Regions from separate parts of the Homo sapiens genome. Here all the other regions are linked to region 2. Evidence: fine-mapped expression QTL. A gene starts in region 2. Each other region holds a variant in brackets. All regions are shown on one strand. Distances are from middle to middle.

Region 1 (10,895 bases), 140 kb after region 2:
TCATTTGTAAGCTTTTTAAAGAAAAAAAAAAAGTTGAACTCTGAATAAAATGCCTGGTTATTAACCAAAAATCTTGGGAAAGGTTAGGGAAGTATATGTGGTTAGGGTTAGGGGAATATAAAAATAATATCAATACAACTTTTCTATGTAGCACCATGGTTCACAAATTCTAGCATGAATCAGAATCACCTGGAGGACTTACAAAACACAGCTTGCTGGGCCCTACCCCCAGAGATTTTCATTCATAAGTCTGCATTGGGGCCTAAGTATTTGCATATTTAACAAGTTTCTAGGTGTTGCCATTGCTGCTGTTGAGTCACATGCTTTGAGAACAACTGGTACAGTTATCAGTCTTGTCTTCACCTGAGTTTTGAGTTGCTGTAATTTTGTGATTGTCTTGGGCTGCATAACATAAAGAGCTGAAGATCTGGTACCAAGTTATTTAAGTTCATATCCTGGCTTTGATAGTTTACTGTCGATATGCCGTTGAACAAGTTACTTCTTCAAATTGTGTTTTGACAACCTTATTAGACAAGTGTACTACTAACTCCATTCTGCTTATTTATGAGGTACCCCTCATAAAGTTATTGAGGGATTTGAATGAGTCATGTAAAATGCTTAGAACAGTGTCTGGTACATCTTTTGCAAGTGTTAGAAAGCTAACTAGTTCTCTTTTATGAATGACTAATAAACAGCTTGGAATGGTGAAAAGGACACTGACCTGTTAGTCAAGAGATGTGAGTTATAGTTCTGGCTTTCTCAGTTTCTGACTTTTACAGCTGTAGGTATATCACTTGATATCTCTGAGCCTTAATTTTACCATTTCTAAAATGGTGGTTGGTGGAGGTGGTGTGGGGTAGGATGGAAGTTAAACTCAATTCTGAGATCCTTCCTAATATTTTGGGAAATGTTACTTTTCCATGAGTATGCAATTTTTTAAAAACTTATTTTAATTATTTTCTTTAAATTATCTGGTCCTTAAAGGTTGCGAGTAAATTGTGTTGGAGTTTTTGATGTTTTAACATTTGATAACAGTCAAAATAATAATCCATTGGCATTAATGGCCCAGTACCAGGTGAGTAAGAATTAACATGGATATTTACTTGTTTTCCTTTATTAAAGACAAATTTTGTTCATTTTAAAGTATTTCAGTGTTTTAAGCCTAGATTTTAATTTATTTTGGGGTGGTGTCTATGCAGACTTTGAACATGTATCTCCCCCTCCCCTCCCTCTCTTTTCTTCCTTTCCTTTCCCCTCTCTATTTCTTTCTCTCTCTTTTCCTTTCTATTCTTTTGCTTCTGTCTTGCTCTGTCACCTGGGCTAGAGTGCAGTGGTGCTGTCAGCTCACTGCAGCTTTTGAACTGGGCCCAAGCAATCGTCTCGCCTCAGCCTCCCATGTAGCTGGGACTACAGATGTGCACTACTGTGTCTGGCTAAAATTTTTTTTATTTTTATTTTTTGTAGAGATAGAGGCTCACGATGTTGCCCAGGCTGTATTTCTTAACCATTATGATGTACTTAGTGTAGAGCCCTTGTGGGTTGGAATAAAGAGAATTCATGACAATGTCAGAGACTCTTTTTTTTTTTTTTGAGGCAGAGTTTCACTCTTGTTGCCCAGACTGGAGTGCAATGGCGCGATCTCAACTCACCACAACCTCTGCCTCCCAGGTTCAAGCGATTCTCCTGCCTCAGCCTCCCGAGTAGCTGGGATTACAGGCATGCACCACCATGCCTGGCTGATTTTGTATTTTTAGTAAAGACAGGGTTTCTCCATGTTGGTCAGGCTGGTCTTGAACTCCTGACCTCAGGTGATCCGCCTGCCTCGGCCTCCCAAAGTGCTGGGATTACAGGCATGAGCCACTGTGCCCGGCCTCCTGATAACGTCAGAGACTCTTAACTGTTCAAAATGAAAATGTATTTATGTGATTTAGGAAACGTGTCCTAAGCATAGATAGATTAAAACAAGACTAATCAGATGAATGGATTATATTAAATGACACCCTTCTTTTTCACTCCTTTAATTACACCTATTATTTTTACTTTTAGAACACTTGTCTGACTACCAGTCATGAAATTTTAGAAATGTTTTCATAGGTTTGTTATTGGATTGCCATTTTCTAAGTAATTTTTTTATTTAGTCAGAACATACCACTCACTTCTTATACTTTATTAGTATTTGATTATTGTCTGACTTCATTTTATTAGTGTTGATTTAGGCCTCGTGATGCTTCTTAGCTATTTTGCTGTTTCTTATTTCCTGATTTAAATGATAAAGTATCGAAGAATAAGAACGTATCTTCAAGCATTAAGAACAGTTGCTTTAGGCCAGGTGTGGTGGCTCACACCTGTAATCCCAGCACTTTGAGAGGCTGAGGTGGGCAGATCACTTGAGCTCAGGAGCTGGAGACCAGCCTGGCCAACATGGTGAAACCCCACCTCTCCTAAAAATACAAAGATTAGCCAGGTGTGGTGGCACACACCTGTAGTCCAGCTACTCAGGAGGCTAAGGCAGGAGAATCGCTTGAACCTGGGAGGCGGAGGTTGCAGTGAGCTGAGATCGCACCACTGCACTCCTGCCTGGGTAACAGAGCTAGACTCCATCTCAAAAAAAAAAAAGAGAATAGTTGTTTTTGCCTTGATTACTCTGCAAGTAACAAAACTAAAGTAAATAGGTCATTCAGTTTGTATTGGAATGCTTCACATTAGGATAGGCAGCTATGATTTTAAGACAATTTTAGTTCTTTGTGTATAAGAAGTTTTTGGGTTTTTTGAACATTTATTAACTTACAAAGGTTTGCTCTAAGGCAGAATTTCTTAATTACATGGAGAAACACCTTATTCTTCTCTTTTCAACTTATTTTGTTTAAAGTTTTGGAAGAAGATTTTAGTTCACTGATAGAATTTCAGAACAAAAAGAGAACAAAAAGGATAAAATGAGAAGTAGAGTCTAATCAGTGTTTAGTATTTCAGTTCATGCATAAATCTGTTTTGCTCGTAAACCACAGAGAATACAGTCCCAAAGACTTGCAGGCACTCATTGCATTCAGTTGTTTGCAGACGTTTCACACCCTTCTTTCCCTCTGCTTGTGCCCACCTAACCTCAGCAGCAGCCAAGCTGTTCTGGTTGATAGCAACATCTAGTGGGCAACACAGGGAGGAATATGATTAGTTCTGTTTTTCCCCCAGCAGCATCATTCTGTTCTTCTGCCTGAGGGCATTTGCCCCCTCTTTCTTATCTGGAGACATTGTTTCTTAGCTACTTTCATTCTTATCTTCTCTCTTATACTTAGTGCCTAGGTAGTTGGCTCCGATTAATTTTTCTTTATGACCTTTATGCTTCCAAAAGTGACAGATTATTGACTGTTAAAATATTAGTGAATATATACACTTGGATATACATCCAAGCAGATAATATTAAATTTTTGAAGGAAAATTACACATTTTTAGAGCCAGTACCATCATCTTCTAATGTAAGTATCTAGAAACCCGTGTCTGCATTAAAAAAAAAAAAAACTGCACACGCTCCTCATTCTTTTCTCAGTAGGGTTCCTTTTCAAGTATGTTATGAGTCGTGTAGTTACCTTGAAAAACAAAACTTTTCATAAGAAAAAAATCCCTGAGTTCAGACAACCAACTTTAAGCATTTAGGGCACCTTATTAATATTTGTAAGTCAGGATATGCCTTCATTCATAAAATCAGGCAACCTTCAATTAATTATCACCTGTTTATTTTTTTCAGCATTAAAGGATATATATCAGGCTTTCTTTTTTTGGGTATATATGTGTAGCTGATTTTTTATATTGCTTATTATAGTAAGGTATAGGAAAGAATTAAAGATAGTCCCAAAGGGGGAGTGTGATTTTACAGAGAAGAGGATACATGAGGAGTGCATTGTTTCTTGTAGTCTATTTTTCATAGTTTGTTTCAGACACGTGAATAGAGACTGACTTTGAGTAAAATGGACATAAGTAGAGCCATAGATAGAATCAGAAAAAGAAATCAAGAAGTCAAGAATCAGGAAGAAACTGAAAATCAGTTGGGGGGCAAATCTCCTGAATTCAACAAATGGGGGGAAACCAGATGGAGGTAAGAAGCAAAATAACAAATGGAAAATTATTTAGCTGAGAAATAAGGAAAGGAGAGTTACTGGGTTTTACGGTGTGAAACTCTCTTAAGATTTTATTAACTTCTTTTGTTTAAAAAAACAACTCTAATTTAATCTGGACTGTGTCATACATGTACTTTATTTCAAAAAGTGGATGTTCTTACCTTGAGTCCGCTTTAGAGAGGTGATGGGATGTACTAAAAATCAGATGTTATTTTTTAAACCCATCTGGTTCTTCAGCTCTCTTGGACCATTTTGGTTTTCTGTCTCATAATAGAGAATAATGGAATATTCTGGGAGGGAGGCTTAATACAGCATCAGTTCAGGGTGGAACCAAACTGAAAATTCTGCTGCTTGAAGAGTTGGAAGACTGTGTGTTGGTACCTGCTGCTCAAACACGTGATAAATAACAACAATCTTTGGTATGCTTTGCTGGATACTTTGGATTGAATCGCCCATAGAAATTTATAGTTGGCATTTATATGCACTGATTTCTTTTGGCTGAGATTTCTGTAATTTCAT[G/A]AATATAACTTGGAATGTTTTACTTGATCTAAAGTGTGATTGAGAGGAATTCTTTTTGGAGTTCATCACAGTGTCCTCCAGCAAACAGAAATGATGGCAACAGTAATAGTTCTCCTTCCCATGCCAGCTTCCCTCCTGCCATTCTGGGCTCCTGACTCTATCACCAGTGAAGTTTTAAAAGTTTTCTGGGATGAATCTTTGAATCTTTTCTAATAGATTCAAAGTAGTTTGTCTACCTAATCAGTCTGTCTCCTTATCTCATGTTCAGTGTCAGATTCACAAATGCTAGTTTTGGATAAATTTTTTAGTATGAACTTTTAAATGTTATTTTAGTAATGGAGTTTAACGTCTTTTTACTCATTATTTGGGTAGGCTGTTGTTAAGTATAACCATATAATGCTAGAATTTCACTAATGATTGCCTTAAAGTTACAAATATTCCAACAAACCAGTGGTTCTCAATCCTGGCTGCATATTACCATCATTTGTGGAAGCTTAGAAAAATACCAATACCTAGATTTTTATCCCAGACTAATTATACCAAAATTGGGACGAGGGGATGGCTACTGCTGATTTTGGTTTTGTTTTTAAGCTTCTCAAGTGATGGTAATATACAGCTATGCTTGAAAATTCCTTATAATAAACGAATGTTCAGTAAATGAACGTGTGTCTAATAATTTAGATGAGTTCTCAGATTTTAAAGATCTGCAAATGTCTGTTGTAGAAATTGCTTCAGGTGGTTTCATGTTAACTCTGAAGTACTCCATTCTTGAAGGCATGTGGTTGTTAATAGCTTCCTACCAATCAGGGCCACTTGGGATGACCATACTGTTTCCTGGAGTTATAATAGGTGATAAAGGACTTAATTCAGCCAGCTGTCTTTTGAAAATCCTTTTAGAAGGAAAGCCTCAGAATGGTAAATCTTGAGTGGGAGAGGTTTTAGGAAAGCAGGTGGTGGTTCCAGAGCTCAAAGATCTGTTAGAGTGTGAGGAAAAATAGTCTATTTGGAAACAAAGATAGATGGGATGTCATTCATTGAGGTTTGCAGCATTTTTGATGTTCTAGAGAATTTGCTCTAAAATCTGGTTAATGCTAATGTTTGTAATAGGATAACTTTTCTTCAGATAATCCTTCACATTCCCACTATATTCTGGGAGTTACAGAAAATGAGCAAAGTATGTATGTTAAGTTATAGTGGTCATAGCAAAGCAAATGTATAGTAACCTTAAATTTGTTGTAATAGAGAAGAATATTACCTCTATTTAAATAAGAAAAAATTAGAAAAACTTTTTAAAAGTGGCAATTTGTAGTTGGCATGGGAATTGCTTAAAGTCTCTTAAGGCGTGGACCTAGAACTACCTTCATCAGAATTACCTGGGTGCTTTAAAAATGTTGAGCCATTTTCTGGACCCACCCAATGAGAATCTCTGGTAGAGAGGCTCGAAGTCGTCTTTTTAATAAGCTCCAGGTTATTCTGAGAATCACCAGTATTTGAGGACCCTGCCTGCAGCTTATTTATAATGATGCTTTTTCCATTTAGGCAGTAGTGTCAGTGTATTAAATGAGTACCTGTGAAATGAAAATTAAAAGTTATATTTATTCTTTCATGTCAGCAAGCAGATCTGATATCATTAGGAAAAGTTGTGTTGGCTTTGGCTTGCAACTCTTTGGCAGGAATTCAGCGAGAGAATTTACAGAAAGCCATGGAACTGGTGACAATCAACTATTCCTCTGACCTGAAGAATCTGATTTTGTAAGTTTTAATATATGATAAATTGTACAGAATGATTATTTGCGATAAGACAGAGCTTTTTTTGTTTTAAGTGATTGTTTTGGTTCCCACTATTTAAAATCAAGCAAAACAGAAACTTTATGTCTTTATTTTTATTGCAAAGTAAATATTTCTTAGATAAATTGATAAACCAGTGTGTTTAAATTAGTTATTGATGTTTTAAACATTTGGTTAAAGGGCACCCAGTAGAAGTTTGTTGGTATCCACTAGCTACATGTGACCTTTTACATTGATATTAATTGAAATTTAAAGCTTACTTCTTCAATTACACTAGTCACATTTCAAGAGCTCAGCAGCCACATGTAATTACTGGCTAATATAATTGGACAGCACAGACATAGAATATTTCCCTCATCTTGGAGTTCTGTTGGATAGTGCTGCTCTAGAGAGTGTGAAAGCCATCATGAGTAAGCCTCAGGTGCAATCCAGTCATGTACTCTGGCCAAAATACCCATTCTGGAAAGCATTTGTGTGGAGACCCCCATGCTTACACTCCAGTATCTTAACGCTCCAGAGAATCCTTGAGTATCGATTTGAGATGAATTTGGCTTAAGAGAAACCCATTGTGTGGACTACTGTCACAACAGAAGGACTTCTCCGTAAGATATAGCTACTATTGGGAGATCCCAGAGGGTGGGCAACCACGACCTTTATTACAGTTATGAGCTATATTAGAGAAGAGGTGCTAATCAACAGTCTCTTTTAGCTTACAGCTGCCCATTCTGATCTTTCTGTGTAGCCCTGGATGATCCAGTTTCTTTTTGGACCAGCCCTGGGGTATGAATTGGGGGATGGAGGGTGGGATTGCCCACCTGTTCTTTGTTACACTGGCATAAATGTCCTACTTGTGACAGCACTAGAAGCCAGTGGTTGTCTGGATCCTATTCATAATCAAATTCAAATAAGATGATTTATCTTCTGAATAAAAATACTTGTTTTATATATGATCACAACAGTGATTCCTAGCCTTAGTTTGCAAATACCTAGGATGCCTCAAATAATTTCAGGTTATAATCTCTAAATTTTCCTTTTTAAAAAAGTGGGGATAGAGGACAAAAATAATCAGCCATATGTTAATAATTATTGAAACTGGGTGATGATACATGGGGATTCATTATATTACTATTCTATTATAAATGTTTGAAATTTTCTTTATTAAAAAAATGAATAAACAAAAAAGCCATACTTTAATAATAAACACAAACTAAAGTTTATGGAGTAATTAAACCATGTATCGGGCCCTTTCAAACTGCTTGATGTGAATTAATTTTTTTAATTCTCCCAATAACTCTATAAATTAGATACCATTATTAGTCCCATTTTAGAGTTACAAAACTGAGCCACAGAGATAAAATAACTTGCCAAAGTCACATAGCCTGTAATAACATTAAATATGATTAGCAGGGTACACATATGTCCATACTTACGGATGAATTGCTAAGATATAGTTTATTCACATGGGTATAGCTATTCATTTATCCACAAAAATGATGACTACTATATGCCAAATGCAGGATACTTTGAATGAGGTGAACAAAATTCCCATCTTCTGGAGCTTACACCCTAATGGGAAGAAAGAGTAAATAAACATAAAAACCAGTGAGATATTTTCAGGTAGTGATAAGACCTATGAAGAAAATAAGAGAATTACAAGCAGAAGAGTGAAGGAGTGAGTAGGAGGCTGCTTTCATGAGAAAGGGCAGAGAATGGCTTTACGTATAGAATAAGCGGCAGTAGATGATTGAGAATCTTTGTGTTCTAACAGGTAGCCCTTGAAATGTGTAGTATTTTCTGCCACTGTTCTAATGATAGAAGAAATTTAACTGGTTCCTTCTGCTGCGTGTTACTGCATTTCTCAGAAATGAATATGTCATGATACCTTGTAAATTAAGTTTTAGAGCAGAGGACAGCTTCTTAAAAAGGCTCATTCAGTTTAGCAAAATTGAAAACCCAGTTTTAGTTCTGAAAATTAATCTTTGCAAAACAACAGGAAAAGCTCCCCACCCCACACCTACCCCCTTTTAGTCCTCTCAAAAAAGTTTCTAAAAACCTTTTCTTTTTTGGCCGGGTGCAGTGGCTCACACCTGTAATCCCAGTGCTTTGGGAGGCCAAGGCAGGTGGATCACAAGGTCAAGAGATTGAGACCATCCTGGCCAACATGGTGAAACCCTGTCTCTATTAAAAATAGAAAAAAATTATCTGGGCTTGGTGGCGCACGCCTGTAGTCCCAGTTATTCACGAGGCTAAGGCAGGAGAATTGCTTGAACCCAGGAGGCAGAGGTTGCAGTGAGCCGAGATCACGCCACTGCACTCCAGCCTGGCAATAGAACGAGACTCTGTCACCAAAAAAAAAAATTCTTTCTATTAATTTATTTTTGTTTTTTGTTTGTTTCCTTTTTTTTGAGATGGAGTTTCACTTTGTTGCCCAGGCTGGAGTGCAGTGGTGCCATCTCAGCTCACTGCAGCCTCTGTCTCCTGGGTTCAAGCTATTCTCCTGCCTCAGCCTCCTGAGTAGCTGGGACTACAGGTGCCCGCCACCATGCCCAGCTAATTTTGTATTTTTAGTAGAGACGGGGTTTCACCGTGTTGGCCAGGCTGGTCTTAAAGTGATCCACCTGCCTCGGCCTCCCAAAGTGCTGGGATTACAAGTGTGAACCACTGCACCTGGCCTGTAACAATCTTTTCATCTAGCACTATTGTAAAGAAGGGTTTGAGAATGGAAATGGGTAAGTGCAGTCCTACTTCACTTTTCTTTCTCATTTCCATAGTAGTGAAAATGTAGAGAAGAGACATGTTTACTGTTTCTCCATTGGCTGTTACAGTTTTCCAGAGGAATGAAATGTAATATTTAAGAATGAACTTGACTTGCATGAATTAAAATGTTTTCAAAATTTTGTGTGCTAAGATGACGGCAGCCAAAACAGCTATGTTTGGGTTATCTTGTTTTTTAAATTGCATGTTGGACATCCAAGTAATTCCTCTTTTATCTTGGGTAGGTATTTGTTGACTGACCAAAACAGGATGCGAAGTGTAAATGACATCATGCCCATGATTGGTGCTCGATTTTATACTCAATTGGATGCTGCTCAAATGAGAAATGATGTCATAGAGGAAGACCTTGCAAAGGTAAAGAGTGTAAATTTTTTTTTTTTTTTTTTTTTTTTGAGACAGAGTCTTGCTTTGTCACCCAGGCTGGAGTGCAGTGGTGCTATCTCGGCTTACTGTAACCTCTGCCTCCTGGGTTCAAGCGAGTCTCCTGCCTCAGCCTCCCAAGTAGCTGGGATTACAGGTGTACGCCACCACACCCCGCTATTTTTGTATTGTTAGTAGAGACGGGGTTTCACCATGTTGGCCAGGCTGGTCTTGAGCTCCTGAGCTCAAGTGATCCGCCCGCCTCAGCCTCCCAAAGTGCTGGGATTACAGGCGTGAGCCATTGCACCTGGCCAGTAAAGAGTGTAATTAAAAGAATGTACACACAACTTGCATCTGTGTATATAAATAGACACAAAATAATCATTGTACTAAATATAATGCCTTATTTGCTAAGATTTCAGATATTTTTGTCGGCACTGAATGTTTGGTATTTTAATTTCTTATGTCCTCTGGACAACACTGTTCTTTTCATTCATGGCTTTGCTACAGTCATGTGACAAAAATCTTGGTTTTTCATGTGAGTTACTTTTCCAATTCCTATGGACAGCTCCATAATCTTCTTGAGTACCATTATGAAATGAAATGGACATATTGTGTTTGTTTAAAAGTATAACCAAAAGGTGGGGATGTTAGGATTTATTGTTTAAAGGTAATATTGGTACAGGTTACCAGTTTTTGTAAATTTTGGCTTTTATGTTCAGTTATCTGGAACATTAACATTTTTCTCTTTTTAAAATGTTTTATAGGAGGTTCAAAATGGAAGACTGTTTAGGCTCCTAGCAAAATTGGGAACAATCAATGAGAGGCCGGAGTAAGGATTTACAGTATTTTACAATATATTTTTAATCGAGAGCACTATTTTGCATAATAAGAATAAGTATGCCTGGCTTTATTTGGAAAAAGAGAAAAATTCTCATGTGAAGTGACCTTAAGATTGTGTTAGCTGTTAAGGTGCTATTTTTAACAACAGCCTAGGTGTGGCTGTCCTTACGAATTTTACACACATGTATACACACAGAAAATATGGTGTGTTAGAAATCTCTTGTGGTTTGCACATGAGGGCACATTTTATGACTAATACTACCTCTACCCTATCTTCTTTTTGAGGAAGAAGTTTCATGTAAGTTTACCCTGGTCAGTTTAGAGACTTGAGAAATCTCTAATTTTTGCATGCCTCTTACCTTCTATTAAAGCACACTTTTTTTTTTTTTTTTTTTTCTTGAGACGGAGTCTCCCTCTGTCGCCAGGCTGGAGTGCAGTGGCACAATCTCGGCTGACTGCAACCTCTGCCTCCCAGGTTCAAGCGATTCTCCTGCTTCAGCC
Region 2 (10,895 bases):
TACAAAATTAGCTGGGGGTGGTGGCGCATGCCTGTAATCCCAGCTACTCAGGAGGCTGAGGCAGGAGAATGGCGTGAACCCGGGAGGTGGAGCTTGCAGTGAGCCGAGATTGCGCCACTGCACTCTAGCCTGGGCGACAGAGTGAGACTCCGTCTCAAAAAAAAGAAAAAAAAAATTCTTGCTTTAATACATATCTTTTTCAGCAAGTCTCCTGATTTAAAGTTTTTCATCCAAGTATAAATTAGAAAATCTAAACTGAAATAAACATAGTCTTTGAAATAGTAAAATCAATTATTAATAGAGAATTATCCGATTTAAGATTATAATGGTCATATTTCACATACAAATATTAGTTTCTGGAGTAGGGGGTGCTTAACCAACAGAAGTGGTAATAGTGAGTTTTGCTAAGTTAAAGGTACTTCTATATGGCTGGTGGTAGTTGTATGGGATGATACCAATGATATACTAGATTGTCAGGGCCATTTCCAAGATATAATTAATTTCAAAATCATATTTGCCTTTAATGTATTTCACAAGAATATAATAAATATGAGCATCTTGAAATCCTTTGAAAACTTGTATAGAAAGGTAACAAATTGCTTTTACTGCCATAAACACTAAAAAAACCTATGTAGTATATATCAGTACATAAGTATGATGATAATGATGAAAGACTATGTCTTCTATAAAGGGTCATAGATACATTAAAAAATCTTTTTTTTGAGACGTAGTCTTGCTCTGTCACCCAGGCTGGAGTGCAGTAGCACGATCTTGGCTCACTGCAACCTCTGCCTCCCAGGTTCAAGTGATTCTCGTGCCTCAGCCTCCCGAGTAGCTGGGATTATAGGCACTTGCACCAGGCACTTGCACCACCACGTCTGGCTAACTTTTGTATTTTTAGTAGAGATGGGGTTTCACCATGTTGGCCTGGCTGTTCTGGAACCCTGGCCTCAAGTGATTCGCCTACCTTGGACTCCCAAAATGCTGGGATTACAGGCGTGGGTCACTGCGCCTGGCCAAAAAATCTGTCATGTATCAGTTATTTATCACTGCCACAAATAGGAAGGTTTTTGCTTCTAGTGCACCCAAAATTTGTCAACAAGATTAAATTAAGCAGTTGCTAGTAACTTTGTATAAAATTATAGAGCTTAGTGCATAAGGAACATACTTTACAAATATGTAAGAAATGTATTTATACATATGCAGCAAATTTCATTTCTAGGACTCAAAAACAGTCAACTCTCATTTATCCACATGCAGTTTCCACTCTATCTTAAGGGATAATTTTTATTTTTTTTTGAGACAGGGTCACCTTTTTTTCACCAGGTGACACCAGGGTTGCTGTCACCTAGGCTGTCACTGCAGCCTCGACCTCCTGGCCCAAGCAATCCTCCCACCTAAGCCTCCCAAGTAGCTGTGACCACAGAATGCCACCATGCCCAGCTAAATTTTTTTGTAGAGACAGTGTTTCCCTATGTTGCCTAGGCTGGTCTCAGAACTTCTGAGCCAAGTGATTCTCCTGCCTTGACCTCCTAAAGTGTTAGGATTATAAGTGTGAGCCACATGCTTGTCCTTAAGGGAGAATTTTTAAGACTCAGGCTGCTATCACTAATATAATAATTAACCATTCAGAAAATGTGACGTTTTCCTCTCAATCTTTATTATTATTAATTTTGAGATGAAGTCTCGCTCTGTTGCCCAGGCTGGAATGCAATGGCGCAATCTCGGCTCACTGTAACCTCCGCCTCCCAGGTTCAAGCAATTCTCCTGCCTCAGCCTCCCGAGAAGCTGGGATTACAGGTGCCTGCCACCATGCCTAGCTAATTTTCTGTATTTTTGGTAGAGACGGGGTTTCACCACGTTGGTCAGGCTGGTCTCAAACTCCTTACCTCAAGTGATCCACCCACTTCCGCCTCCCAAAGTGCTAGGATTACAGGTGTGAGCCAATGCGCTTGGCCTCAATTATTAGCATTTAATAGAAATTAACATTACCCTTTAGCAATGTAGTCTCTGTTGCTGGGGAAATGCTGTTGGAGGTCAAGTATACATTTTATGAATAATTTATGGATTATTTGCAGTTTTGGATGTAATCTTCATTAACATGAAAATAACTTAGAGTTGACTACATATTTATTTTTAGTAAAGGAATACTCAACAATGAACCCTGCTTAAAAAGACAACCCTACTATAGGAATAAGTAGTTGTCTCCTAAAAAAGTGTGGAGATATGAAATGTGTGGCAAATAAGTTTATTTTTTATTTATTGACCGAGAGGGTCTCACTGCTGTGCAGGTTGGCATAAAATGGCGCCTTCAAAGCTCACTGCATCCTGGAACTCCTGAGCCCAAATGATCCTCTGCCTCAGCCTCCCCAGTAGCTAGGACTATAGGCAAGTGCCTCTACACCTGGCTAATTTTTAAATTGTTTTGTATAGACAGGGTCTTGCTAGTTTTCCCAAGAGGGTCTTGAACTCCCGGCCTCAAGTGATCCTCTTGCCTTGGCTTCCTTCCAAAGCAGTGAGGTTAGAGGTGTGAGCCACTGTGCCCTGCCATGTTGACTTTTAAAAACCCTGTAATAACTTCCAATTGTCCTCAAGAAAAAGTTCAATTCTTTTTTTTTTTTTTGAGATGGAGCCTTGCTCTGTCGCCCAGGCTAGAGTGCAGTGGTGCGATCTCACTGCAACCTCTGCCTCCCGGGTTCAAGCAATTCTTCTGTCTCAGCCTCCCGAGTAGGTGAGATTACAGGTGCCTGCTACCACACCCAGCTAATTTTTGTATTTTTAGCAGAGACGGGGGTTTCACCATGTTGGCCAGGCTGGTCTTGAACTCCTGACCTCGTGATCTGCTCGCCTCAGCCTCCCAAAGTGCTGGGATTACAGGCGTGAGCCACTGCGCCTGGCCAAAAGTTCAATTCTTTAACATGGCCCTACAAGGACTTTTGTGGACTCTGCTCCATTTTCCACTATCACTGTATTCTAACAATAAAAGCTGTTTGCCTAGAATGCTCTTTGACTATACACTGACTACCACTAGCAGCAATACTACTTTTTTTTCGAGATGGAGTCTCGCTCTGTCGCCCAGGCTGGCGTGCAATGACGAGATCTCGGCTCACTGCAACCTCTGCTTCCCAGGTTCAAGTGATTCTTATGTCTCAGCCTCCCCAGTAGCTGGGATCACAGGCGCTCGCCACCACGCCCAGTAATTTTTTTGTATTTTTGTAGAGACGGTGTTTTACCAGGTTGGCCAGACTGGTCTCGAACTCCTGATCTCAGGTGATCCACCCGCCTTGGCCTCCCAAAGTGCTGGGATTACAGGCGTGAGCCACTGCGCCTGGCCAATACTATTAATAATAGTTACAACCTACCGAATTCTTATTAGGCATGGGACAGTTTATATACATTATTAGTTATACTTTATGAAGTAGGTACTATTCTTAATCCAGGTGTACAGACAAGGCACAGAGAAATGAAGCAATTAACTGAGAGGAACACAGCTATTAAAGTGTAGGCACTTTAATCTGTTTCAATCCAGATCTGTCTGAATTCAATGATGTTCCCAAACTTGGAACATGAAAATATCAACTTTCTCCAAGAAGTCTGACATGTTTAATATCCTCTAATAGCAAATGTGATAAGGTTAGCACTTAAGACACTGGTTTACAACGGACCTGTGTACTTGATGCCTCCCCAACCGGAAGATAAGCCATCTGAACTCACTTAAGGCGGCATGTTCACTTTTGCTTCCCCAGCTCCACAGTTAAGTGTACCACAGTTTCTGGTACACGTAATGCGTGTTAATAAAGATTTGTTGAATAATCAAATAAGCGAAACTGCTTTTAAACAGAAAGCCATAATACAATGTTATTACCTTCGAATTTGGCTAGAGAACATCACCAAGCTTACCAGTTTGTGATCTAGACTCCACTTTTCCCCATTTTTTTCAGTGTGCTACTTTTGCTTATATCCATTCTTCTGTGACTTTGTTTGCCACAATTCCTTAAATACTTCCACCCCTCCTTTTCATAACAGCGATCTGCCGTTTGTGAACCTCTTTTACAGAGAAAAACTAGAATGTTACTTTTCCTTTCATAGCAATTCTTTAAAATTTCTGAAAGCCTTTAAAAGGGTATTAGCGCAAACATCAGAGATCGCTGAGGTTAAAACTATCTTTTAAAAATGAATTTCACCGTCTCAAAAAAAATAAAAATGAATTTCAAATCAAGGCTAGGCTGATTGGAGAAAAGCAACCTAGTATATTTATAAAGGTCTTCCAGTGCTGTCTAAGCAGTGTTGTCCCAGGTGGCATCCTATTTTTCATAATTTACCGAAGGCCCTTGGTAATATAAATACAGAGAATAACAGGTGCTGCACTGAGCAGGGGGTCTGTCTAAATCAACCTTTTTGGCTCCATTTTTTGACAAAGGGCCAAGAGGTTAGCGTAATCGGTCCAGTAGTTCTCATTACCTTCGAGGGGAAGGGGAAAGAGGAGAGGGGCGAAGAAAGGAAACGGGGAGAGGAAGTGTGGCAAATAGAAGATATTCTTCAGGTAGAGCCAGGGCTCGGGCCGCGTCCCCAGGTGGCCCCTCCAAACGACCGTTTACCTTGTCAATTTTCTCTTTTCAATGAAAAAAAAAAAAAAGACATCTGGCTTTTTAAGTAAGAGAATATACAAATAAGGAAGGTATCAGGTCTCGTGAGAATTCGGCGCCAGATCCGCGTCCGGAACCCCACCGAGAGCCGCCGGTCCAACCGCCGATAGCTCGCGGATGCCCCCGGGGGCCCGACGCCGGCCAGGCTTCCCCTAGCGCTCCCGCTACCCATAAGCCCTCGCGTCTCAGCGCGCACGCGCAGCGGCGACGGCCGTCTCAGGAAGAGGAAAATGGAATAAACAACTCGGAGGAACCAGAGCGCGAGAGAGCGAGTGGAGGCAGAATTTAAAAATAAACCGGCCCCTCCGCCTTCCCCACCCGCTTGCCGCTGCCGCTCCCTCTTCCCCTGCCCGCGCCCTCGAAGTCCCCGTCTGGGCCCGCGCGCTCACCCCGTCGTCCCGCGCGGCCCCTTTAAGAAAAGAGAACGAGAGAGTGAGTGAGAGAATCCCAACTCTCCCCCTACCCTCCCTCCTTCTACCCCCTCCTCCCTCCCCTCTCCCCTCCCCCTTCTCCCCGGGCGGCTCCGGCTCCCGCAGCGGGACAGACCCACCCGCCCAGGCTTTTATCCGGCACCGGCAGCGTCTTCCTTTCCTCCCCCGTCTATGGTGGTGGCGGCGGCGGCTCCTCGGGCGGCGGCGGAAGACGAGGCTGCGGCGTTGCCATGAACAGTGGCGGCGGCCTCCCGCCCCCCTCGGCCGCCGCCTCCCCTTCCTCCTCCTCGCTGGCGGCGGCGGTGGCGGTGGTGGCCCCGCCGGGGGTCGGGGGTGTCCCCGGCGGGGCGGCGGTAGGAGTGAAGCTGAAGTACTGCCGCTACTACGCTAAGGATAAGACTTGCTTCTACGGGGAGGAGTGTCAGTTCCTGCATGAGGACCCTGCCGCCGGGGCTGCCCCGGGCCTCGGCCTCCATAGCAACAGCGTCCCCCTGGCTCTGGCTGGTGCACCCGTGGCCGGCTTTCCGCCGGGAGCCGTCGCGGGCGGGGGAGCTGGGCCGCCCCCCGGGCCCAAGAAGCCGGACCTGGGGGACCCGGGGACCGGAGCCGCAGCCGGCGGAGGAGGCAGTAGCGGGGGACTCGATGGACCGCGGCTGGCAAGTGAGTGTTTTTCGGGCGGGGCGGGCCGCGGCGGCGGAGGGCAGGCCTGGGCCGGATGAGGCCCTGCTGCCGACGGGAGCTGAGCACGGCCCGCGGGCTCCCCCCCTCACCTCCCAAGGCGGTCTGAGAGGCCTAGGCCGGGCCTGAGCCCTCCTTCCTTCTTCCTGCTTCCCCTCCCCACTGCCTTCGGCAAGTCGGAGAGCGCGGGGAGGTTGGGTTCCCGGGAACGTGGGTGGGAGGACTGGGGTGATGTGAAGGGGGGGCGGGGAGGAAGGGGGATGGGCTGTGGCGTGCGGAGTGTGAGAAAGGGGGTGTCGTTTCCGGGGGGTGTGGAAAGGGGCTGGGTTTGCAGGCACATGTGTTTTGCGTGTCCTTGTGGAGTGGCGTCTGCAGAGTGTTGAGGTTCCCTAGTGGGGAGGGGTGTGTTTGTGTGTGTGTGTGTGTGTGTGTGTGTGTGTGTGTGTAGGGGGCGGGAGGTGAGGGGCGGGCTTAAGGCTTCGTGGAGTAGGTTGAAAGAACGGAAAAAGTTTGTAGAAGGCTTGCGGGAGAAAGGTTTTGCAGGCAGGAAATGCTTTCTAAGGATTAGGAGGGAGCGGACTGTCGCGTTCAAAGTGTGCTCAGGTTTAATCGAGAGTTTAGAGTAGGGATTTCACAAAGACGCATTTCATCTGAGTTTCCCTGAAAGCTAGAATAAGTTTGCTGGTGTCAGCTGGGATCCTGTCTTCTATAGCTTTGTATCAAGCAAACTCAGCATTGTGTCTTGAATGCATGTCATGTGCAGCCTGCGTTTATGTGCGACTGAGCACTTGGGTGGGGACATCTTAAGGCTGTTTATATTTCTTTTTCATGTGTTGTTGTTGTTGTTGTTGTTGTTGTTTTGGAGAGAGTCTCGCCCTGTCGCTCAGGCTGGAGTGCAGTTGCGCGATCTCAGCTCACTGCAACCTCCGCCTCCCGAGTTCAAGCGATTCTGTTGCCTCTGCCTACGGAGTAGCTGGGACTACAGGCGCGCGCCACCACGGCCAGATAATTTTTTGTAGTTTTAGTTGAGATAGTAGTCTCGTTGTGTTGGCCAGGCTGGTCTCAAACTGCTGGCCTCAAGTGATCTGTCCTCCTCAGCCTCTCAGTGTGTTGTTATCTATTGACCTGAAGCTTGTTAGTTGTTAGTGGAGTTTACAATTGAATGTGAGCGTAATCTGTTAGAGAATGTTGCCTTTACGAATAGAGCCGGTGCCAGATGTCCCTGTTTTGTTTCTTAGTATATTGAGCGTTTCTAAACCAAATAGGAGTCCTACTTTCTTGGGAATTCTGGAGAACTAGATCTTAAAATAATCTGATAGGCAGTTCAATTTGTACATGAGAACATTTTGTCTTTTTCTTAAACACTGTTAATGAACCTGATAGGAAGTTTTAGCATTTAATTGGTCTATGAGGATTATTTAATATCTTCCCCGGGGTTTTGCTTTCTTGCTTTTTCTTTCGAGACGGGATCTTCCTATGTTGCCCAAGCTGGCCTGGAACTCCTGGGCTCAAGCGATCTTCCTGCCTGGGCCTCCCAAAGTGCTGGGATTACAGGAGTGAGGCACCATGCTGGGCCAAGTGTTGTTCTGTTCTGTTCTTTTCTCCTTTCTCTCTTCTTTCTTTTTCTTTTATAGAAGTGTTTCATTTGTTGTGATGGGCTTGACTTTAATGAAGATATATTTGCTAAGGCTGATAATGCTAAGAAAATTAATTTTGTAAATTCAGATGTTTTGTAAAACAAATGGTTACTTATGGGTGGAATTTTATCACTTTCGAGCATCAACTTTGCATTTTCAGGTTAAAGTTTTGCTGGATGTGTGAGTCGTGACTCAGTAGTAATGTTTGATTAGTAACCAATGACACTGAACAATAGTTTTCTTACTGACAGAAAGAGACACTTTTTTTTTTTTTTTTTTTGAGACGGAGGCTTGCTTGTCGTCCAGGCTGAAGTGCAGTGGTGCGATCTCGGCTCACAGCAACCTCCACCTCCCAGGTTCAAGCAATTCTCCTGCCTCAGCCTCCCAAGTAGCTGGGTTTTACAGGCATGCGCCACCACGACCGGCTTATTTTTGTATTTTTAGTAGAGACGGGGTTTCGCCATGTTGGCCAGGTGGGTCTCGAACTCCTGACCTCAGGTGATCGTCCCGCCTCGGCCTCCCAAAGTGCTGGGATTACAGGTGTGAGCCACTGTGCTGGCCAGAAAGAGGCACTTTTTAAAATGCTGGTGTTAGACTTCATAGGTGATCTTTCTAGGATTCTCTTTTTAAAAAAAACTTTTAAAGTTTTATTTATCTATTAATCTTATTCCTGACAGACAGCTCTGACGATCATTCTAGGATTTTCTTTTTCTTTTTTTCTTTTTTTTTTTTTTTTTTTTTTGAGACGGAGTTTCACTCTTGTTTACGAGGCTGGAGTGCAATCTAGTGATCTCGGCTCACCGCAACCTCTGCCTCCCGGGTTCAAGAGATTCTCCTGCCTCAGACTCCCTAGTAGCTGGGATTACAGGCAGGCACCACCACGCTCAGCTAATATTGTAGTTTTAGTAGACACGGGGTTTCTCCATGTTGGTCAGGCTGGTCTCAAACTCCTGATCTCAGGTGATCCGCCTGCCTCGGCCTCCTAGGGATTACTGGCGGGAGCCACCGCACCTGGCCGAGGATTTTCTAATTAACACACAATAGGTAGAAGGGCTGAGACTTGAAAGAGGACAGGATGTAAGCAGATGAAGATGGGAGGGGAAGGTAAGTACCCTTAAGGTGGAGGAAAAAATATTAGCAGTGGCTCAAAGGTGGGACATCTTAGGAAAATAACTGAGATATAGGGACTCGAGAGGACAGGCAGTTAATGCTGAAAAGGTATTTTAAAATTAATACTTTGTCACTTGTTAGTAAAAGTTGTCTGATTAAATAGTTGATTTATGTATTTAGATTCTGTGGTGTTTGCTTTAGCTTGTCTGGCTGAAGCCTAAGGCTCCTCTTTTCTGTGATAGGCTTCTTGGTATCTCTCAGTAATTCCTTATGGATGGAGATTTCTTCATAAGGAATCACAACCTAGGTATTACTGAGAGATACCAAGGAGTGGGAAATAATGTTGCTCAGGAATCAGGAAAAAAGGTTGTGTTGGTAATTGTATGGCTTTTTTGAGTTTTTACACTTATTGTTCATTTTTTAGACTGCTTTCTACCTTTTACTGTATTCTCATTCAGTGTGTTTTGAGACAGTATTGATCCGTTTATTTTATTTTGAAGAGATGATGTCTTGCTGTGTTGTCCAGGCTGGTTTCGAACTCCTGGGCTCTAGCAATCTCCTGCCTTGACTTCTCAAAGTACTGGGATTATAGGTGTGAGCTACCACATCTGGCCTTCATTGGTTAATTATGTGTGTGAGGCAGTTAAAATAGATGGCAATTTTTTTTTTTTTTTTTTTGAGACAGGGACCACAGGCACTGGCTACCAAGCACCTCTAATTATTTTGTATTTTTGGTAGAGATGAGGTTTCCCCATGTTGCCCAGGCCGGTCTCAAACTTCTGGGCTCAAAGCGATCTGCCTACCCTGTGAGCCACCATATATACCATAATTTAGTGTTTTTAATTTCTATGTTTGTGGGTTTTGATTGAATCATTTGACAACAAAAGAAACAAAAGATTTAATATAGAAGTACAAATTTCTGGTTTCCCTTTAAGGATGTCTCTTACCTGTGTTGGAATTAGAGCTGTTGATAGAGCATAATTCTCTCCATTTTGACTCATTCCCTAACTGGATGACTTTTATATCTAGGCATTTGAGGTTTTGACTCTAACTTTAGCACTTCACATTTGCAGAATTGTTTTTGTTTTGTTGGTGTTTCAGATAGTGTTAAAACCTTGGAGGTGGGTGCATGAGAAAACTTTATCTTTATTTTGCAGCCATTGGAAAACTGAAGCACAAAGGCTTTTTCTTAATACACTTAGTTGCAATGATGTTTCAACCTTATAAGGAAACTGCAATTTGATTTTTTGTTTTTGTTTTTGTTTTTGTTTTTTTTGAGGAGGGGGTTGGGAGTTCTTGCTGTGTTGTCTAGGTTGGACTCCAACTCCTGGGCTCAAGTGATCCTAGCACCTCAGCCTCCTGAGTAGCTGGGACTACAGGTATGCCGTACCATGTAGCTTACGTAACATTTCGTATTTCTGTTAGTCTTGGGATTTTTCTAAGGCTTAAGAGTGATTTGATTTGTATTCAACTGCATTATCGATTCTTGACATTTAATGATGTAATTCTAATATTTTCAACTGGCTAGATTTTCAAAATGGCTTTAATCTTCAAAGTGTACAATTTTTAACAGGTAAAATATGCCAATATTTGTATTTTATGTACATTATTTGAAACCCAGTAGTTTTAATTTACCAAAATACACTTTTCAATTCTCCTAATGTAGTTACTAGTGAATAAGACATGTTTCAGATAGAATCCTGGCTCTTTGACTAGCTTTGTGACTGAACGAATTTTTAACCTTTAAGCCTCAGTTTTTCTCATCTGGAAAATGGAGATGTTATGAAAATTGCATGGCATTGCCTGCACATATTGAGGTTTCAGTCTTAGTTATTGCTATTATTAAATATTAATAATCTATAGTTAACCTCTGTATTTCCTTCTTCAAATTTTTGAGGGCATACATTGAAGACTAGTAAAATAGCTACAGATTATTGAATTGTGATTGTCCAAATGGAGGAGAGCAGTGCCATGGATAACTTGAAGTTCAAATGTTAGCTTTGGAATATGTAATGTGTAGCGTGTGGCAAAGCTGTTTTTGTTTAAGCCAAGACTAGCCTTTTCATCCCACAAACCTATACTAAGTGACAGAGAAGTGAGTACTGGCGATTTGCTGTTAGGATAGCTGGCATAAGTTTAAACATTTTTATTGGAATAATATACTTAGTATATCATGAAGGCTTTATAATACTGTTCATTTCACTCATTTAATATCCTGCTTCCAAGGTGGTAAGCTCTGATTAAGGTGATAGGAACAACAACAGCAACAAAAAAACATAATTCAGCCCTAATGGAGTTTACATTCTAGTGGGGCTATAAATATCTATAAGGTAATACTTGGTTTCGATAAGTTTTTTTGTTTTTTTTTTTTTTTTTTTTTTTGATATGGAGTC
Region 3 (10,895 bases), 98 kb after region 2:
TCATGTTTTTGGGATTTAGGCACTGCACTTTATACAATCAATAGTCTAATGATATTTGTTAAATTAATTAATGACAGTTCATCTAGAAATGACACCATTAATACAGGCAAGACTGAAGTTATGTCAAAGGGAAGATTACTATGTGTAGACCAGGAAAACAAAGTAGTTGTGCAGGCTGTGATCTCTATCAAATATTGAGGACTGTGTGTTTGATAAAGCTCAGGTTAAATTCATCATATAAATTGACATTATGTGCCTGAGTTTGGTCAATAAGATTAAATACATTTTATGAGAAAGCTTTAAGGTACTTAATTATTTTGTTAATGCTTACAGTATTTCTAATACCAGATAGTCTTAAGTATCTATCATAGATAGATATTCAGCCAAAATGAAGTAGGATTATATAAATTAGTTGATGAAATTCTGTAGTTATTAAGGGGAAAATCAGAGATGGAAATTAAGTTGCAATTATTTGGGTTAGATCCACATGGCCTCTATTAAAGGTGATTTACATGTAAAAATAAGTCTAGGCAACACAGCATGACCTGGTCTCAAAACAAATAAACAACAACCATAGGCAGGTATGGTGGCACACACCTGTAGTCCCAGCTACTTGGGAGCTTGAGGCGGGAGGATTGATTGAGCTCAGGAGTTCAAGGCTGGAGTGAGCTATGATCACACAATTGATCTCCAGCCTGGGCAGCACAGTGAGACCCTGTCTCTGAAAATGAAAATAAATAAATAAATAAATCTTTTTAGAGTACTTTGAAATTTGTCGTTTTATTGCATAATATAAAGAGATTTTGTACTTTTAATCAGTTCATGGTGTTATAATTGAAATGTCACTGTTACGCAGTCATAAGGTAAACATTTAGCACTTTTCCTTTATATTTACCCAAAAGTGAAAACCAGTTCTTGTTTACTTCTCAAAAAAATGAAAAAGAATACTTTATTTGTAATATCTTTGTAGTCTCATTCACAGAATTCCTAATCCCCCGCAACCCGGAGGCTGTAAAAATGAGGATAAGGGGTTAGAAATTTCCAAGAAGTGACTGTTGTTAAGATAGACATTGAAGGACAGCAAAATAAGAGTAGAATTAGGTATCATAAAGAGCATAGTCTTTGAATCCAAGGTTCAGTTTACCCCGAATCTAGATGTTGGATACTTCAAGAGTAGAAAATTGTTCTATCACATCCTAAAAAACTGTTGTTTTAATGGTAACTATTGATTTGACCCACTTTAAATGGGATATATTATATTTGCATATAGAAGATGAAGCTCTAGTAGCTTCAACGTAAAAAAAAAAAATCTTTGAAATGTATGCTCACTTTGGCAGCACATACGCTAAAATTAGAACAGTACAGAGAAAACTAGCATGGTCCCTGTGCAAAGATGACATCCAAATTCATGAAGTGTTCTGCATTATAATATATTTTTAAAAAATTTATAAAGATTAAAAAATAAAAAATTTATAAAATACTGTATTGAGAATTTAATTTCCATTGGCATAAACACAAATGATATGCACAGAATTACATATACATGTATTAGGAATCACATTAAGTGTTTAGATAAGGGATCTGTTAATTTGAGTTCGAGGGTGAGCAACCCTTATCCAAAAACTTTTTTTTAAAGACTCCCTTTTATTATGTTAGGCTAAAATTGTAACCTGTTGACAGAAAATAACATAACTGTGATCTATGGGGAAATCAGGCCTCTATGAAAATAATGATTTGTGAGTGTACATATTCCTCATCAATTTTACAGAACAAGTTTTTAGGTTAGATTCATTATAAAACATCTGAATTTACAGATTAGAATACTATTATCTTTTTTTTTCTTGAGTAGCTTAATAGATATCCAGCATGCAGATTGTTAAACTAGAATACGAAAATTTTAAATCAGTAATTCTGAAAGGCAAATGTATTGGTATAGTTAGGAAAATCATGGGTAGTAACTTCAGATGGTTGCTTTTAGTAATTCTTTAAAAAGTGGAAAAAAATTATGTTAAAAACCTCATATAGAGGAGAAGGGATTTTTGTGATTTGCTTAGGTGCATTTTTTCCTAATATTTGGAAATTATGACACTTTTTTTTTTTTTTTTCAGGCGGAGTCTCACTCTATTGCCCAGGCTGGAGTGCAGTGGCATGATCTCGGCTCACTGCAACCTTGGCCTCCTGGGCTCAAGCGATTCTCCTGCCTCAGCCTCCTGAGTAGCCGGGATTACAGGCGTGTACCACCACACCCGGCTAACTTTTGTATTTTTAGTAGAGATGGGGTTTCACCATGTTGGCCAGGCTGGTCTCAGACTCCTGACCCCAAGTGATCTGCCCACCTCGGCCTCCCAAAGTGTTGGGATTACAGGCATGAGCCACCATGACCGGCCTGGAAATTAAGACATTCTTATTAGAATTGTGGCTTATTTTGTTTGGAGGAAAAGTATATTGTGTAGCTGTGTGCATTTTTTTATGTTGCAAATTAATTTTGTGTTTGAACATTTATTCCTTGAGGAAGCTTTAGAGGTACCTCAGGATGTCATAAAATCAGTGTAGAAATTAAAAAGGCTTTTATAATTTCACTGGCAAATATCAGGTTTATAGTCTTTCTAAAATCTAATCTCCCTGATGTTTTCCCTTTGTATTTCTGTAAAAAGAATATAGTTCCATTTATTTCATCAGAAATTCTGTTTTATTGCATTAACATTGATTTCATGTTAATCTTTTAAAAATTAACCAAAGATGTGTATCAGCATTTCCCAAGGTGCTTTTAAAATATACATTGCTGGCCAGGACCCCTAAACCTACCAATCCAGTTTCTCATCCAGACCTCCATTTTTCTTTTCTTTCAGTTCTATAAATGTCTTTTTTTAGAAAGCCTTTCAGGTATTGTGATGTCAATCCTATTTAAGAACCAGTGCCTTAAGAGAGTTGAGGCAGTTAAGAAGCACTAGTGTGGTCTGGTACAGTCAGGGAGAACAGGCTTCCCCCTTCCTCTTACTTTCAGTTCCATGTGGGTTTTGTTGTTGTTATTTTAAGAGGCAGGGTCTTGCTCTCTTTTCCAGGTTGGAATGCAGTGGAGTGATCATAATTCATTGCGGCCTTGAATTCCTGGGATCAGGCAGTCCTCCCACCTTGGCCCCCAAAGTGCTGAGATTACTGGCCTCCATATGTTAATAATTAGAAGAAAACTTTAATATATTGTTTATTATGAAAAATTAAAATTTTTCATGTTTTGGAGTTTTGTATGATTATGAAGATACTATTGGTGTGCATGTGAATGTATAATTTCTATATGCTGTAAAAATTATAGGTAACAAGGGTTTTAAACTGATTAATTCATTTTCCCATCTTCAGTTTTCTCTGTAGCTACTACCTAAGCTATGTGAAAATCTCTTAATTGCCTTAGGAAAGTATGTCCTAACTTGTCTTCATACCTCAATTCATTTTAGAATTTATTAACTCTTATCCTACATTCTGTTTGCTGAGTTAAGGCTTTTTCTTCTCTAGGCTTTTATGAAGTTGAGTAAACTGATCATCTTCCTCTTGAGTATTCTTTATTTTTCTTTCTTTTTTGTTTTTAATTTCAAAACCTTCATTTTAAGAAAGATTCTTGAACAGGAAACCTAAGGTTTATTTTTGTGATCTTCATTTTCCATATCTACTTGGCTTTCATATTATATCTATGAACTGTCTTCTATTTTCCTTTTTTTACTCTTGCCATCATAGCCGCTTCCATGCACTATTTAGGCTAATTGGTCTACCCTTGCATTTCTTTTTTGTATAATAACAAAAGTAATCTTAAATATAGACCAAATCATGACTAAATTGTCATTAGAATAATTTCCAAGCCCCTTACCATGGCCTGCATAATCTGTTTTATATACCTATAATCTCACCTGTCATTCTTTCCCTTGTGTACTCCGTTCTGGCCTTTTACTGACATTCCCCAAATAATGTAAAGCTCCTTTTGATTCATGTTCTCTGCATGTGTCATTCCTCCCATTCCTTCCATGGCTGGTTCCTTCTCTTCTTCTTAGGTCCCTGCTAAAGTGTCACTTATAAAAAAAGGCCTTTGACAATGTAAAGGAAGTTTCCCACCATTATTTTCCATCCTCTTCCCCTGTTTACTTCCTTTAAATAATTGAAGGTTCTATTAAAATACTGCCATCTTTCTTTTCTGATTAAATGGACCTAGTCCCTTTGACTCTACTTCATATAGGACCTCACTCTTTTATGAAGTACATCTCCTGTTCTTTAAGAATATGTATTTGAACATGGTCAGCCTTTTCCCCATCATCTCTGTGCCTTTGCTTGGGCCTTATGTTGCCTGGAAGGCTCTCCTATTTATTGAGATCTTTGCCTGCTTTTTATTGATTAGGTCAAATGTCATTTTCTTGGAAGTCATAGCTACTTCTCTGGTCATTATAGTATCTCCCATTTCTTTGCTTTTATAGTGTGTTGAGTATCTCATAATTTTTTAGTATTTTTGTCTTTCTCTAATATACACACACACACA[T/TAC]ACACACACACACACACACACACACACATATATATATATATGTATTTATTTTAGAGATAGGCTGTAGCCCAGGCTGGAGAGCAGTGGCTCGATTGTAGCTCACTGCACCCTCAAACTCCTGGGCTCCTGTCTCACCCTGTGGAGTAGCTAGGACTAGAGGCACTCACCACCATGCCCAGCTGATTTTTAAATTTTTTTTTTTTTTTTTATGGAGTTGTGGTTGCTACAGGCTGGTGAAAGTTGCTCCAGGCTGGTCAAACTTCTGGCCTCAAATGATCCTCCTGCTTCCACCTCCCAGAGTATTGGGATTACATACGTGAACCCCGTGCATGGCCTTCATGTTAGTTTTATACGTATTTATTTCCTCCACTAAAGTTAAATGCTCCTGTGGTATTTTATCCTTTATTGTGCTCACATATGAAGAGCTACAGTTAAGTATTAAGATTGAACATTTTTAAGCATTTTAATGAGCTTTATGGTAGAATGTGAACTGTGTGAGTTTAGACCTAGGTTTTATTTCTCGATATCTTCAATTTTTAGAATCTTGCTCAGCGTTTGATCTCATGCTGGTTCCAGTGAGCTTTCATATATAGGTACAGATCAGAATCACATACGGTGCTTTGAAAATATAAATTCTCTAGTCCCCATCTAGGACCTATTAAATCAAAAACACAGATTTGGAGCATCAGCCTTTATCTATATTTTTAAAAAATTCACAGGAGATTCTAACATATACCCCTTTACATCTAGAGTAAAAAATGTTCAAAATGCCAGAAAATTTGAAGGAAGGTAAATTTTATCTGATTTGAATGAGGATGTAAAGGAAAAAACTTTCATGGAAGAAGAACTGAGATGGTTTTTAAAGGAAGGATAAGATTTTTTTATCTGTTTTAAAAATGGGCAGTTGAGAGTCAGTGAAGTTTGTTATTTTTTCTATTTGTTTTAACCAGTTTAGCATAAAGACAATGTTCTCAGTGAATGTTTAAAAATTAATTCAGTCTGAATTAGGTGAAGACTGAATGAACATCTGTGAAGAAAATCTCAGGCATGGTTCCAAGCCATAGGCTTAGAGCAGGGTTCTTTTTATTTTTGTAGAGATGGGGTCTCCCTTTGTTGCCCAGCCTGGTCTTGAACTCCTGGACTCAAGCGATCCTCCTGCCTTGGCTTCCCAAAGCGTTTTGTTTTGTTTTGTTTGTTTTTCTTAAAAGCAAACAGTACCTTGGTATCAGTGCATATTGGTTAAATATCAGCTCTCTAAAAGTGATGATTTTGCATGACTATTTAGAATATTGAAATCATATGGATTCTTTTGTTTTACAGAGCTCTGTCTTAGGCTCTTAGTCCCTGCTTTTGTTATGTGGAGTTTCTTTTTATCTTTTCAAATATTTATATCCAAAGAGTAGAATTTTGTTTTAAAATTAGCATTGTTAGGCCAGTGAAAACATTAGATTGGGCTGGAACATGGAAAAATTAATGGAAAATGGCCTAGAGGTAGACAGATTTTTTTTTTTTACATGTTAAGTACCTGATGCTCCTCTTTTAAAATCTTTTTAACAGTTTTATTTGCCATCAGCTTCACAGAGTTTGGCACATTGTTTCTTGAGGGTTGTCAGAATGTGGGGAGAAGAGACTAGTAGGTAATAAGACTGGAAAAGATGGGTTGGAACCTAACTATATCACTGGAACTCAGAAATGAACAGGCAACCAAACCTTAAGACTTAATTATCATTTCTGCCCCTAGAGAACCTGTGAACCAGAAGCACCAAAACTTAATTAGAGCTTAGAACATTAGTTTTCATACATTTTTAAAAAATAGCAGCAGTACTCTTGTGAAGTCCTGTGTGAACCCCCAAACCTAAAGTTACATAAAGCAGATAAAGCTGGAATTTACCGGTTCGGGTTTATTACATTAACTCATAAAGTTATTCAGTGAGAATAACAAGGCTATGTAGTATTTTATTGAATATAATAGCTTGAAATTGGTGGGTGAAGAATAATAATTAACTTTGTATCCCTCAAGTCTCCTTTTTTATATTTTTAATCATATAGTAACATGAAAATCATGAATTCCATGGGTAAGTTGTGTACTCATGTGTTCAAGTTTCTCTGAGTACATGTGCATTTAAACAAAGATTATTGCAGAGTCACTACCTTCCTAATAAAAAACATCTGTATGTATGCACAATGGTGACAAGAGAGAGGCTTTACCTTGAGGTCTGCATGAAAATATCCTAACCCAACACAAAATTAAGTATATTGGTGTTGGTATGTTAAAACATGAATGCATGTTAATTTGACCTGCATTTGTGTGTTTTTATTTATTTAATAAACAGTGGAAAAACAGATAAAAAGAAATTCAAATCAGGCATTTACAAAACCCCGAGGCACTGCTGGAAGCCTAAGGTGTAGTTAAAACTGTTTTAAAACCACTGCCATAGGTGGCCTGTTTCTCAGTAGGAGGGAATTTACCAGTACATAGGTTAAGGAGGCTGGAAGGCTGCAGCACTTTTCTTAGCTGAGATTCCTCATTTGAACCAAAGAGTACAGAAAAGTGATATAAGCGATTATTTTGTCATTCTGCAAAGGGTAATGTCTATCAGGTGGCATTATACAATGGGTGTTTAGCTCATTGGTGCTTAATCCCCCTGAAACCCCTTTTGAAAGGTTGGGAAAGTGAGGAATCAATAAGGCATTAAAAACCAAGGAACCAAACAAAAAAGACACTTAACCAAAATGTCAGATGCCTATATTCAAATGAGTACAATTTTCAAGACAATGCATGGTCACTACTATATTGTATTTCACAAGTCTGAGCTCTTAGGCACTGAGTTTATGGCTGAGAATCAAGATTTGTTCATGTTAAAACTTGGAAATGAGAAAGATATATTTTAATTAGGATAGATTTTCATTTGATTAATTAATAGCATTGATACTTTTTTTAATGAAAAGTTGTATTGGCCACCTTCATGATTCTGTCTGGATGCAGGCTTGAGTAACGTTTGTAAACAAAAAAACTTTCAGTCTAATTCATACAAAAGGAAAAATGATGTTTCAGTGTTATGAAATTAGCTTGAGCTCTTTAGTTCCTTTTCTTATTTTTTCCCCTTTTTTTTCATAATAGTGTATTATAGATAAAACCACTAACTCATAAAATGGGAATGTTCCCTTGTTTTGTTATGGCATATCTTGAAGCTCAAAGGCTATGCATGTTGATTTTTTTTTGGGTTTAGACATAATAAGGAAGGCAAGCCACTATTTGAGGTCTTGAAACAGAACATGTTACTCTTTTCAATCTTTTGATTCAGAATATTTTATTTAACAAGTGAATCAGAACCTTGAATTTAAGGAATTATGTAACATTTCACTAGTTCATTATGTATGGCGTTAAGCAGAGTTACTCTAGATATCCAAACTGCTTTTCTGGTGGAGACTTTTAATCCCACCCCCCCCACCCCCCACCCCCGCCAACACACACACACACACACACACACACGCATGCACACACGCACACACACACACACACACACGGAAAGTAACCAACTTGTCAAAGAAAAAATACAACAAAATGAAAATAGCTTTGGCCCTTATAATACTTTCCATTTATGTTCCCTTCATATTTTTTCCCAGTGAGAAACCATATGGTTTGTGCTATAGCTTCTCTTGAAAACTTTGTTAGCTATTTAACAATCTCACTGTAACTGAGTGAAAGCTTTAATCAAGAACTGCCCATGACATATAGATGCCTTTGGTTCATTGGCTACTTCTGTAGTTGAAAGGAAGTTGAACTATTTTTTTGGACCCAGTAAGTTTGTCCTTTCCACTTGGGTGTTGAAAGAGCTTATGAGCAGTAGCTGTTCTGATTTTTGTTGGTTGTTTTCTCTAGGGAACAAGCTACCCTCTGAGTCAGCACTGGACTTGAAGATAAATCCTACAATTCATGAAACTGACTGATTCGACTAAAGGATGGATAGTTTGGGCAGCGTTGGACAGCTCTATGAGGGGTCTGTTTGTTTAACTGAAGGGATTGTTGAGTTCAGCAACTTTTAATTCCCCTAATCATAAGGGGTTGCTGTTGTGAAAACAGGGTTTGTGAAGGAATCAGTTCTGGCAATTAACATCAGTATTCTTACTGACTTCGTTTTTATTTTATTGTCAAACTTCTTTAAAGTGGATAAATTTTACTGCTTTTTTTGCCAGCAAGAATTTGTATGCACTGAGAGGTCAGCATAGAAGCTTTGCAGTCTACTTATGAATCCAAGTTTCTTTTTTTAAAATATATGAGGTTATAAACATTTCTCTCAAGTAAACTTTTTGACACTTGGATTATTTCATCTTTACAAAGGTAGTATGCATTTGTGGCTTAGAATTTTTAAGATTTAATGGAACTTAATTTGAGTAGTAAATATTTTGCTAGTTTAGTGAGTATATTTTGGCTTATGGCTAACATGCTTTTTAGATAACTTTTATTAATAAGATATAATGAATTTTTACCCTAAAACTTTACAGGCTTTTAAAAATCAATCTTTGAGGAAATGAGATTAATTATAATGTTTAATTATATGGATTTTTAATCTGAAACATGAGGGATTTAAGCTACAGAATAAAAAGCTTCATACCCTAATTTTCTGGGCCATAATTATACAGGGATACAGTGGATTGTCTTTTTGAAGATAAAACATGCTGTGGGATGACATAGAAAATCCCAAAGCTGTGTCTGTGTGATAACGCATATAATTTTGTTATTTAAGAATTAAAAGATTATAAATGTATAAATTTTATTTTAATCATTTGAAAGTTGGGATGGTTGAAAATATATAGGAGTAATGATAGTATTACCTAGCCAGTATTTGAGTAGATTCTTTAAATATCTTTGATTGATTAGGCTAGAAGTACAAATAGTCATCCATCATGGCAGAGTTTAGAAAATTGGGCTTTAGACAAATGAGTTTGCAGAAAATTCAACTTTCGCTCCATAGCTGCATGATTCTTATTACCTTGTTAAGCTTGATACTTTTGATTAAGAACATTTTTTGCCAGATTTGATTTTCTCTGCAAAGGTTAATTTGATTGAAAAAATGAAATTATTTTGAGGAAAGAAGTAAAGGCTAGTATTATTTTAGTGTCTACTTTCTGATTCTGTTGATTTTTGGATGGTGAAGTGGTTGGTTTTATATTGTACACTCTATTCTGGGATGAGATCCATGTTTAAAACATACATATGCCTATGTCTTGTTTGTCCCAGTCATATCTTTATTTGTGTCCACTTTTAAATTTTCCTTTTCGGCCGGATGTGGTGGCCCATGCCTGTTATCCCAACACTTTGCTGGGAACCGAGGTGGCAAGGTTGCTTGAGTCCAGAGTTCAAGACCAGCCTGGGCAACATGTTGAGACCCTGTCTCTACAAAAAATACACAAATGAGCCAGGGGTGGTGGCATGTGCTGGTGATCCAAGCTACTAGGGAGGCTGAGGCAGTATATGATTGCTTGAGCCTGGGAAGTTGAGGCTTCAGTGAACCATGTTGGCGCCACTGCACTCCAGCCTGGGCAACAGAGTGAAACGCTGTTTCAAAAAAAGGACAAAAGAAAGAAAAAAGAAAGTTCTCTTCAACAGAAGGCTGTACTTGCATATAGTATATAGTCATCTGGAGCTTGGGAATTTTTTTGACTAGGTTGCATCAATTGCAAATAATGCTGTGACATTCAAACTTTAATTGCAATAGTAATTATGCTGAAATACCTTCCTTAAACTCAGTTTCTTCTTCTATTAAGAAGAGCCAGTGATAGAAATGGTCTGAGGAATAAAGCTTGTCTCTGAAGCACTGAAATAACAAGTGGTGGTGGCAGGGGTGGGGTTGTGAGGGAGGCTTCGTTGAACTCAACTTTGGATAGTTTATTTATTTCTACTCTTTGAATCATAAGGAAAATCAAAGAAGAGACTTTATTAATTCTTAACATGTTTAGGACTCTTAGAATTTGGGGATATAAACACAGTGTCTGTGTTTTGGGCTATAAGTGTGTATTCTTTAATTTTGGGTGATTTGGGGAATTTGGTTAAAAATGAATAAGTATTTGTAGTAGTAGCGCATTTTTTGTATTTTGATTATGATTACATAAGTTCCTTAGTATGATTTTTCTCATGGCAAAAGCCCCAGATATTGGCCTTGTTATTAAGAAGATAATGCTTCACATGTTCTCAAGTCATCTGTTCAAGATGACATATGTTTTATTAATTTCTAATCTAAATCATTATCTTCAATGTAGTTAGACATGACAATTTATTATTGAGGATTTAGTTTGGTTATTGGAACTTCATTAAAACTATTTGTATAACCCATGTTTACCCAGATTGCATTGACCTAGAAAAAGTAACACATACTAG

Direction of the effects. Positions count from the first base shown, and alleles are read on the strand shown. Sizes are in standard deviations (SD) of each study's normalised expression. Not every link is listed here.
For the expression in monocytes of the gene that starts at base 5,824 in region 2, allele TAC in region 3 goes with a lower level than allele T (moderate effect, 0.63 SD a copy in Quach 2016).

What was found.
Region 1: its variant is fine-mapped to the expression of PAN3-AS1 in whole blood (INTERVAL, PIP 0.99).
Region 3: its variant is fine-mapped to the expression of PAN3-AS1 in monocytes (Quach 2016, PIP 0.95).

Annotation. Positions count from the first base shown.
Region 1 is chr13:28,270,997-28,281,891 of GRCh38, forward strand. PAN3 (poly(A) specific ribonuclease subunit PAN3) reads left to right here. Exons shown (of 19, transcript NM_175854.8): 14 at 985-1,075; 15 at 6,241-6,380; 16 at 9,416-9,545; 17 at 10,319-10,383. It overlaps LOC124903140 (a long non-coding RNA gene), which reads right to left. Exons shown (of 2, transcript XR_007063735.1): 2 at 7,850-7,982. Among named protein-coding and RNA genes, the nearest start is that of PAN3-AS1, 140 kb to the left of the region's middle. The variant G/A (reference allele first, on the strand shown) is at 4,629.
Region 2 is chr13:28,133,351-28,144,245 of GRCh38, forward strand. It overlaps PAN3-AS1 (PAN3 antisense RNA 1), which reads right to left and starts at 5,824. Exons shown (of 2, transcript NR_029383.1): 1 at 5,197-5,824; 2 at 3,493-5,055. PAN3 (poly(A) specific ribonuclease subunit PAN3) reads left to right here and starts at 5,195. Exons shown (of 19, transcript NM_175854.8): 1 at 5,195-5,737. The coding sequence starts at 5,308. RefSeq lists silencers at 5,040-5,149, 5,340-5,419, 5,460-5,859 and an enhancer at 5,942-6,236.
Region 3 is chr13:28,231,180-28,242,074 of GRCh38, forward strand. The region is part of intron 6 of PAN3 (poly(A) specific ribonuclease subunit PAN3); the gene reads left to right. It also overlaps the pseudogene RNU6-82P. Among named protein-coding and RNA genes, the nearest start is that of PAN3-AS1, 97 kb to the left of the region's middle. RefSeq lists an enhancer at 6,740-7,395. The variant T/TAC (reference allele first, on the strand shown) is at 4,517.